2 separate regions of the Homo sapiens genome follow, and region 2 is linked to region 1. The links come from fine-mapping of genetic effects on gene expression. Tissue or cell type: prefrontal cortex. Region 1 holds a variant in brackets; the other region holds the start of a gene. All regions are shown on one strand. Distances are between the middles of the regions. Region 1 holds the start of LOC101927531 (a long non-coding RNA gene). Region 2 holds the start of LINC02347 (long intergenic non-protein coding RNA 2347).

What was found. PIP is the estimated chance that this variant, and not a neighbour inherited with it, causes the effect. A credible set is the group of variants that fine-mapping cannot tell apart.
Region 2: it holds the start of LINC02347, and the variant in region 1 is the best candidate, but not a certain one, in a credible set for the expression of LINC02347 in prefrontal cortex (BrainSeq, PIP 0.54).

What each region holds. Positions count from the first base shown.
Region 1 is chr12:126,357,239-126,362,621 of GRCh38, reverse strand. It overlaps LOC105379613 (a long non-coding RNA gene), which reads right to left. Exons shown (of 3, transcript XR_001749379.1): 3 at 4,895-5,383. LOC101927531 (a long non-coding RNA gene) reads right to left here and starts at 4,603. Exons shown (of 3, transcript NR_187677.1): 1 at 4,485-4,603; 2 at 2,976-4,396; 3 at 1,557-2,521. The variant T/C (reference allele first, on the strand shown) is at 2,118.
Region 2 is chr12:126,439,745-126,445,127 of GRCh38, reverse strand. It overlaps LINC02347 (long intergenic non-protein coding RNA 2347), which reads right to left and starts at 2,647. Exons shown (of 12, transcript NR_130748.1): 1 at 2,540-2,647; 2 at 2,101-2,162; 3 at 75-243. All of the region lies in intron 2 of LINC02825 (long intergenic non-protein coding RNA 2825), which reads left to right.

The sequences.
Region 1 (5,383 bases):
TAAGAAAAAAGACTCATTTTAACGCTGGTATATTCATTAAACCTCTCTTACGCTAGAAAATCTTTTTAACAAAGAGGTCTTAGGTAAGGAAATTTGGTAGGCAACCAAATATAGGTAGGATTTAATATTATTTGGGGGGATTTAATAATTTGGAGGGAGGTTTGCTTTTTAAGTGATTCTGATTTTCCATTTCTGGTAGCAGTAGAAAATTTCTTTTTAAATATATTTATTTATATGCAGTCAAAAGCACATAGTCTCAAGACTGCTTTTTGCGTTGAATATTATATTTATGATATACTGCCATTATTATGTATAGTTAGATATCTTTAAATCTCATTATTGTGTATTCTTCCATTATGTAAGTATATTACATTGTATTTATTCTATTGTTCATGCTGCTTTCTTTTCTTTACATGTAGAGCTACTGTGGGCATGCTAGATCATAAATTGCATGTACTTCTAGGTTGTATGTGTACCTTGGAGTGGAGTTGCTGGGTCATAGGATATGCATATGTGCAAGCATTGATAGATATTTCCAAAGAGTTTACTAAAGTGATGTACCGACTACAGGGTATGGGTACAGCAATATAAGGAAACTTTGGTTGCCAGCATTTTGCATATTTGTCTTTTTCGTGTTAGTCATTGTGGTGAGTCTATAGAGATATTGTATTGAATTTCCTTGGTGAAGGTTGAGAACGTATCATGTGATTAGTAGTCATTTGGACAGCCTCTTTGATGAGGAACCCCTTCATAGCATTTCCTCTTTCTTCTATTTGATTGTAAGCAAAGAATCAGTGTAGATGTTACTCTTGGAGGGGAATTGGTGACTGGGAAGGGGTGCATGGTAATGTTCTGTTGCTCGTTCTGGATATGTGGAATTTGTAAAATGTAAGCTGTGCAACTTGTCTGTGTTCTTCTACTTCAAAAACATCTAAAAATTGAAACGGAAATTATTTTTAAGAAAAAATATTGAGTTCACTTCAGGAATAAAACATTAACAACAGGATAGGAAGTTCACAGTTATGAATAAACTCTTGAGTGGCATGATAAAAAAAATATGGTGGGATTACCTAAATCACTGGAGTCTGGGGACCACTGTCTGGGCACTACAGCCCTCATGAGCTCCCGAGCTCATGCTCAGTGAAGCGATGGCGCTAAGTCCCACATGTGTTTGTGGACCATCCTATGCTGCAACATATCTGGAGATGGGGCCTTTGAGAGGGAATTAGGTTTGGATGAGGTCAAGAGGTTGGGGCCATGATGAGGAGATTAGTGCCCTTATAAGAAGCAACAGCAGAAAGCTTGCTCTCTATCTCTCTTCACCGTGTGTGAATAGAGTGACAAGGTGGCCATCCACAAGCCAGGAAGAGAGCCCTCATCAGAAATAGAATTGGCTAGCACCTTTATCTTGGACTTCCCAGCTCCAGAACAATGAGAAATACATTCCTTTGTTTTTTATGCCACCCAGTCTACGGCACATTGTGATATCATCCGAAGCTCACTAATATATCGGGTATACTTAATACGGTCATGTCAGGCAAACAGACTCACAGAAGGTAGGTAAATGGGGGGAATTTTATTTGGGGAACTGGTTACAGAGAGCTGAAATTCAGGCAAGATGATACAACACAGACGTTAATAACCACTGAAAGCCCTAGCACCACAGGGACAATGGGAAAAGATGGTTCTAGCTGAGCCCAGGAGCCGAAGACAATGGGAAGGACTTAGATCCCTGCAGGAGGGAGCATCCCCAGAACTGGAATCCAACTGGAAAGTGTCTAGGTAGGACTAGGCCCATAGAGGGAAGAACCGTCTGATGCGAGATGGAAACGGAGAAGACAGAGCCAGTGCCAGCAGCACTGTCTAGAGAATGGGCTCAGCAATCCCCTGAATTCCCTCATCCTTCTCCCCACCAGTCACCCACCTTTGGCCAAACCTTCCCATATATCAGTGAGCAGAAGAGGCTGAGAAATTTAGCCTACAGGAGTCAAGACCTGTGGCACAGAAAAATCAGTAGAAAGGCAAGTAGTAAATCTGAAAAGAGTACAGTCATAACAACCAAGTGTGTTTCATCCCTATGCCATTTTTATAGAGATAAAAGTCAGGATTTCGAGTAC[T/C]TTCACATTCCTTCATCGACTCTTGTTTATGCCCCAAATACCACAGAATGAGTATCACATATATACTCTGCTACATGAAAAGGAATTTATGGTCTTCATCCCTCACTTTCCTAACTACATTAAACACTTCTTAGGTTTCTCAGATGATTGGCTTCAGTGCGGAACAGATATGAGCAGAGAGCTGACTCTGGGCATCTCGGCTGAATTACATCCTCTCTGGTGGGAAGGCAGAGCTGGGATCCAGGGAACATATGAAGACTTCGTATGAGCATCTCCTAAACCCTCATCAACCATGTCCATGTTCTCAGGTGAACCCCAGTGTTGACATCACTCCTTGGGCTTACACAATCATCAACCTGTACCAGATGAATGCTCTTCTTCCATTGCGGACTTGATCTTAAGGACTGAAAAATACCAGATGCCCAGTATTAAAAACAGCCTAATATTCTCCCATTTCTCTTCCTATATGGAGGAGTCATAAGTTCTCTGGCTTTAAAGTTTTACAGAACCTTCAGTTTCACAGCTTCCATATGTAATAATTTGGTATATGGTTGCAAAAGAAAATATTAGCCTAAAATGAGGCCAGAAAGATAGAAGAAAGGGAGCTAGAGTCTTACCTTCATTTTTTTTACATTGTAAGACTATGAGAACATCTATTATATTCCCCAGGAAAATATGCATAATTTCACTTTTCTATATTCTTGACTAGACCTGATTATTTTTTAGGAGCAGCCCTCGAATAAACAGCAAACCTTACTGACTGAAAAATTCAAACTCCAACTGCTCACAGGCACCATAGAGAGAATGAGAATGAGAACATACACAGGGTGTGTGGTTGGGGTTCATGTGAATTCTTACCTGTTTTTCTTTAATTTACATATTCCAATTTCCACTCTTTGTGACTTCCAGAAACAGAATGTTATCTGAGCCAATTATCTACGTGCATTTTCTCTTCATCTCTCTCCTGAGCCAAATTCTGATTTAATTTCCACCCATGGTGATATGCAGCCATGTACGTAGGCCAGTTGGGCCCATCACATTTGAATGAATGTGATTAGACAGATGTGAGATGGCTCAATCCCAGATGCTTCCTCTAAGCGCTATTGTGGATGTGGAGAGAAACATTATTGGTTGTACTTTTAATATTCAGCAAATTGTCTCAAAATGGCCCCTAGGCACACATAAGGTTCAGTAGCTGGCTGGCATTCCAATCTCACAGTAAGTGAAATTCTAACTTTAGTAATAAATTAACTTGGGAACTTTGGACATATCTCACAAAATCTGTGAGATATCTGACTATGTCATTTTACCAATATCCACACACAAGTCTAGAACAATTACAATGTACAAACCTAGAAATTTGGGACATCTGGTTTACCAGTTGCTCCGCCTCTAGCTCAGCTTTCAAAGATGCTCCTGTTTACAATTAACGGACATGATTATTTCACGCAGATGGAAGGTCTTGCTGTTGGAGTTAAACATATTTGACTCAATCAATAGAGTTATTGTTCTGGGACCAAAATGTCTCTGACTCATAACCTTGCTTTTGCTCTTCCTATCAAATGAGTGTGATATTAATTTCTAGCCCTGCAGTGGTAGAATCCTCCCAGCAATATAAGAAGACGGAAGAAATAAGAACGTCAGTCAAGCACTCCCTTGACATACCTTTTCATTTTACCAGTCACACCACAGCAGCAGAACAAATATTACAGGCTTGTGTAAAGTGCTATAACTAATCCAATAAATGACAAGAGCCTCCCGTCCTCAGTAATTCTCATTTAGGATGTGTTTCTTCTCTAATAGGTTTCCCTCCAAATGCTTTGTGTCATGAATTCGCTACAGCAAAAACCTTTAAGAATCTGAAATTCACTGGAGCTATCCTGCATTTGCAGCCCAGAAATTACTGGCTTTAGCAGTCTTTGCTCTCTCGGTTTAATCTGAACATAAATACAGATATTTGCTTCAACAGTCGCTAAAGGAAAATTATAACACTGTCAAAAAAACTTGGAGAAGCTGCCTGAAAATGGTGTTCATTTCCCTTTTCTTTCAGCATTCTTCTTTGTTAGCACAACTCAGAGGAGTGCACCAGTAGAGTTACTACCTTTCTTCTTTCAATGACGGGGAAAGCCACCACCATCTGCCACATTTTTTTTCTAAAAGCAAAACCCAAACAGAAAAGGTATTTGCTCTTAGCAAATAATCAAAACGCAGCAAATGGACTGTCCCAACATGGTTGCTTTGCGGGGGTCACCTCTTTGGTTGGCAGTGAAAACCGACTCCTGAAATAAAAAGAAAAATTCAAATGTGACAACCGGTCTTCAGATGTTATCACCTTCAACTCATAAGCACTGAAGGAGAGCTAACTACCTTGCACTTCTTGTCACCTTGGTGGGGCATTGCAGGTTCTGGGAAGAAACTGAGGCCACTGAGGCCTGCTTTCCGAGAAAGAGACCAAAGGCCAGAAATGGAGCTAACAGGAAATAAAGACATATGGTTGTTGTTTCTCCCCTCCCTTCCCTCTCTTCCCCTCCCCTCCTCTTCCCTCTCTTCCCCTCCCCTCCCCTCTCTTTCCCTCCCTCCCCTCTCTTCCCCTCCCCTCTCTTCCCTTCCCCTCCCCTCTCCTCCCGTCCCTCCCCTATCCCCTCCCTCCCCTCTCTTCCCTTTCCCTCCCCTCCCCTTCCTTCTTGCCTCCCCTCTCCTCCCCTCCCTCCCCTCTCTTCCGACTCCCTCCCCTCTCTTTCTCTCCCCTCCCCATCCCTTCCCTTTCCTTTTCTCTTTTCTTGTCTTTTCAAACTTTACATTCGATTCCACCTCTTTACAAGCTCCCATTAGCTTAAGGTCAGATAGAAGTTTGCATGCAAACATAGTAAAATAGGCTTCCATACAGCAAACAACTATCAAAAGGTCATGCTTTTTATTTTCACAGACGTAAAAGCCACCATCAACATTTGCAATGAGAGCAGTGAGATGTAACAGCAACAACTGCTACCAATAAACCTAATAATCGCAAAGATCGCACCTAGTTTGTACCGTGTTATATCCCGGTGCAAGACAGTGACTGCTATAAAGCAGGTGATTGTTAAGTATTTTTTGAATGGATGAATGAACGAAATGTAATTTTGAACACTTCCCCCCCTCTTCCCTTGGTACATATATATAGGTGCTATATTTCCTCTTGACACATCAGTGCCACCATCTTCTTCTAAGGCTGGGCGGTACATTTCCCTGATCTATTTGCCTCTGAGCCTACTGGTCAGAGCTTGGTT
Region 2 (5,383 bases), 83 kb before region 1:
AATATTATTTCAAAAATGGTTTCCCATGACCCAAAGGGCTGAGGCTACTTCATGGCATTTGCTCTTTGACTCACCTGGACAATCTCTAGAAATGCACCTGAACTCGCCTGATGAAGTGCCCAATATTTCCCATTGTTCTAGGGAGCTGGGTTTTTTTAGCATGGAAATGAGATGATAATGAAGCCTGAGGTCTTCCTGAAGTCATTTGGTTGGCTATCTTGGCTCTAATCAGTTTCAGCTGGTCTGGTTAAAAAGGGAACTTTTTATTGCAGGCATCCTTAAAGAGTAGCAGAGTTAGGATAGGGTAGAAATTCAGCTATGTCACATAGGCATTATACTAGGTAACACTAACACCAGGGAAGAAACAGTACCCTTCTCACGAGTGGGGCACTGTCACCAAGGAGATGGTGGGGTGGAGCTCTGCCTACCAACCAAACCGTACATCAAGACTTTATTCTCTTCTTATGCTCTAGAATTTCACAGTAGTATTGGAGATAGGACATTTCCTTAAAGAAAGATGGAAAGCTAAAACAGGTTGCTATTGATCCGCTGGATACAAACAGCTTGCATGTCTGCAAATTATTCTGGTTGACTTGTGCCCAGTCCTGTTCATACAAGGACTTCAAAGACTCACCGGTTCATTCTGGAAACACAGATATTTAAAAACCTCCCATGTTAGCCAGGCACAGCGGCTCTGTAATCCCAGCACTTTCGGAGGCCAAGGCAGGTGGATCACTGGAGGTCAGGGGTTTGAGACCAGCCTAGCCAACATGGTGAAACCCCATTTTTATAAAAAATAAAAATTAACCAGGCGTGATGGTGGGCGCCTATAATCTCACCTACTCGGGAGTCTGAGGCATGAGAATCGCTGAAACCTAGGAGGTAGCGGTTGCAGTGAGCCCAGATCATGCCATTGTGCTCCAGCCTGGGTGACAGAGCGAGACTCTGTCTCAAAACAGAAACAAAAACCACAACGAAAAAACCTCCCATGTTCTTAGGCTCTGGCTCTGTCTGGGACATCTGCTGTCCATAGAGTAACCAAGGGCTATTTCCCAGCCACTAATTCCAGAGGTTTCCAGAGGGTTTTGTTCCCTCCTTCTTTGAACACTGCAGTCCATCAGGGTTTCAAGTAGTCCTGGTTTCCCAAAGTCTTGGTTGAAACCTGAAACACAGGACATTTGACCAAAAAAACAAAACAAAACAAACAAAAAGAAAAAAAGCCCCTATCCTAATGCCACAGAGACCCCAAAACAATTCACCAAGTGCATCAGGCCTCAGAGAATCAAATCAACTCTTTCAGTCTCTGCCAATGGCCATTCTCTCCATAAGTCTCGGGCAAAATTCCCGGTGGGAGGCAAATGAAGCCGTGTCTACACATCTGCTGTCCTCCCTCCCACACACCCTCTCCACTTCCTTCCTCGGTAGGTCACAATCAAAACACCTATGCAAATTTAGTGATTCTTTATAATTTCTTATCCATTGAGCCTCTCATGCTGTGCTTTATCAGTTTTCCATGACCACGAGACGCTCGCAGAACAAGCTAGTGCTTGGGACAACTGAAGATGAAAAATAGATCATTGGAGGTTGTGATCTAGCAAGGAAGATTAGGTTTATACCTAGAAAAGTTAGAAAAGCAGGCGCCTAGAGAGCCAGGTGTCACCATTTTAAAATTAACTCCATCTTTAAACTCGCAACACACATTCCTTGCCAGTTATGACCCGTGGTCATAAGATGTTTACTGCAGAGGAAACCGCTTGGCAATGCCTGCAAGGACAAACTCCTACAACAGCAGAAAGTCCACATGTCCCAATATCACATAACAATATATGCTTTTAAGAAATGTACAATCATGCTTTCATGTACTTATAAACTAAAATGCCAAGGATAACTTTCTTTAAATGGCCAAAGTACTACATCTTGTCACATTGTCAGCCCACCCACACACAGAGATAGCTTAGCTTTTATGTAGATGAGACCCCTGTGTAAGAAGAGTTTAAAACAAAGACAGGGCATTCCTCCTCTTGCTTTCTGAGGACACCCTACTCTGAATCTGAAGAATTTTCAATAAATGATCTCTTCTCACTACACTCTACAACTCACCTTGAATCCCTTTCTGTGGGAGGTCCAGGAACCCTCTCTTGAGGTCTGGATCATAGGGACCCCTTTTTCCAGCAACACAAACATTGACAATATAAAAATAAAGAACATGTTTATCTATGATATCAATGTCTGTATCTGTAAGTATACCTAGCTCAAAATCTGTCTCTTTATTTAGTTTTCTAACTATATGTCTATCTGTATCATAGACATATTAGAAATCATAATTTCTAACATATTGTTGTAGGAGGTCATAACAGAACCTATTATAAAGTGACAGTCTCTTGCTCCTATTTTCTATTATTTCCCATTCAGTCCAGGTAAGTCTTTTTGGGGGACCCTCCCCCACACCCGCTGGAACAGTTACTCTGGCACAGCCGCTCCAGCCTGGATCTCATTTTTGCTTCTCCTGGACTTCTCACTGTGCAGATGTTAGACTCACACTCTCCTCTGGCCTCCTGCTCCTGCTCTGAAAGTGAGCAGTTGTCCCTCTGGGTGGCATTTGAAGTCAAAGCTGGGTCTCTTGACAGTGCCCACCCCTGGTATTCCCACTGCAGGAGGGAGGCCTCTTCTGTTAACAGTGACAGTTATTACAGAACAATGCCTGGAGAGATGATAACTTAGAGCAATTTCATTGTCTTTCCCCTTGACGACTCAGCTCCCACGCTAGAGCAGGTGAGGCAGTGCTTAGGAATAACAAAACAAAATCGCAAAGCCAGGACTTCCTTGAGTTTACTTTGCTTTCTCACTAGATTTTAATTATTATTATTATTATTATTATTATTATTTTGAGATGGAGTTTCACTCTCGTCACCCAGGCTGGAGTGCAATGACGGGATCTCAGCTCACTGCAACCTCTGCCTCCCGGGACCAAGCTATTCTGCCTCAGCCTCCTGAGTAGCTGGGATTACAGGCACCCGCCACCAAGCCTGGCTCATTTTTGTATTTTTAGTAGAGACAGGGTTTCACCATGTTGGCCAGGCTGGTCTCGAACTCCTGACCTCAGGTGATCCGCGTGCCTCAGCCTCCCAAAGTGCTGGGATTACAGGTGTGACCCACGGTGCCCGGCCTCTGACTAGCTTTTTGGAAAATTTCATAGAATGATCCAGGGTTCCAGATTCAATTTACTTTAAGGTGAAATAAGTGGGCTGGTTAGCAAGTGGTCAGCTTTTCTTTGGTGTGAGGATAAAAAGAGGGTGGCTACTTTCTATGGCTTTCCAAACAGTCTCTGTTTCACTTAGTCCAAAAACACGTAATGTTCATATAACAAAGAAATGATACATATTTGAGGTGATGATATACTAAGTTGCCTAATTGGATCATTCCGCCATGTATACAGGTATCAAAACATCACATTTTGTTCTATAAATATATACAGTTACTATTTGTGAATTTAAAATCAAACTATAAAAAATACATTCTACTAATGTTCTAAGATGACTTCTGAGACATTTAGCGTGTATTGATTACTTATACTATGTCTCTCACTGCTTCTACTCATTGAAGAGGTTTATATTGTAAGTAAACATAATTCTTATCATATTCATTTTACAGATAAGGAAACTAAAGTGCAGAATAAATATTTGTCCAAATCTGCACGAGAAAGAGGTTCAACACAGGGCTAGCACCCAGGGATGTCTAGTTTTCAGGACCCACCCTCTCGCGTAGTACACTGCCCCTCCCTCCATTCACTGCAGTTAGGATTCAGGAGCAATAACTGGACACAGTCAAGCCAGTTTGCATCTTTACAGAAAATTCCACCCATTTCGATTAGTGAAGATTCACACGTTTAGCTATGATTTGGCTCCCAGAATTCCTCCAAGTCAGAATATAAACAGAGCTAGACATAGTTCAGACAGTTGTGTCATACCAAAAAAATTTTTAAAAGGATACAGAATCAATCAATCAAGTAGAAAATGAGACATTTTTCATTAAGCTAAAAATAATTAAGTCAATTATTTGGCACTAATGCAACTCTTAAGCCCCGCGGGTGGGAACTTTTGGTTCATAAAAAGTGTTTAGTTCAGATCTGAGCTGAAACAACTTTCAATCTCATTTTCAAGTAGAAAGATGGCAAGGGCCGAGGCGGGCGGATCACAAGGTCGGGAGATCTAGACCATCCTGGCTAACACGGTGAAACCCCGTCTCTACTAAAAATATAAAAAATTAGCCAGGCGTGGTGGCGTGCACCTGTAGTCCCAGCTACTCGGGAGGCTGAGGCAGGAGAATGGCGTGAACCCGGGAGGCGGAGCTTTCAGTGAGCCGACATTGCGCCACTGCACTCCAGCCTGGGTGACAGAGCAAGACTCCGTCTCAAAAAAAAAAAAAAAGAAAGAAAGAAAAAAAAAGAAAAGATGGCAAGGGCTCCTTTACACACCAATAAAATCAGAACAAATACGTATAAGCAACTAGGACAATCCTGGAATATTGTGGGCACCAAGTAAATATCGTGGATGCATCTTATGCAGCCAGACAGGATGATCCAATAATCAGACATCCGAAGGCTCCTGGAGTTTGATCCTCTGAATTCACTCTGCAATATGAAGTCCTGTTATTCTTGGCAACCGATCGTGCTTTTGAAAAAGTGTGTCCCAACTGAGATAACATTGAAATTTTCTGTTTAAAGACACCTCAAATGACTGTGCTCAGGAGTCAGTGTTCCCATCAATGGGTCTGAAGATATTCCTAAGCTCCAAGCCATAATAAATGGCATCTGAAATTATTTCAAGATTAATCATCCTGGGTAGACCTTGAGGGTTAGTCTGAAATTGTACATAACAACCCGGAAAAGCTGTGCATTGCCCAGCTAAAGTGTGGTCCCTGAAAGCCATCACCTGGGCCAGGTAGGCTGCTAGGCCACCCAGAGTAGAAAAATACAGAGCAGCCTACGGGCATATTTTCTTACCCAAGGCCAGTTTAGACAGAAGAGTCACTTGAATAATTGTCCACTTCGTTCGTTCTTCAATCCCAGAGGATACTTACTTTTGGAATATTCACTTTACTCCCCACATAGCCATATTTTTCTCACTTAACTCCATCTCTTCTTCTCTTTAAGGCCTGGTAGAAAATGGCCAAATTTTATAAAATGAGGCAGAAGTGCCTCTAACATTGCCCATATGTGGGAAGATGAAACCTAGGAAAGACAGCTTAGAAGGAGGGAGTCATGGTACCCACTGGGGTTCCTCAATGAGAACATTGTAGAAGGTGTAAATTGGCGGACTCAAGGCTGAATGCAGCCTATAGGTATATTTTCTTGGCCTACATGTCATTGCTTTTAAAATCACAT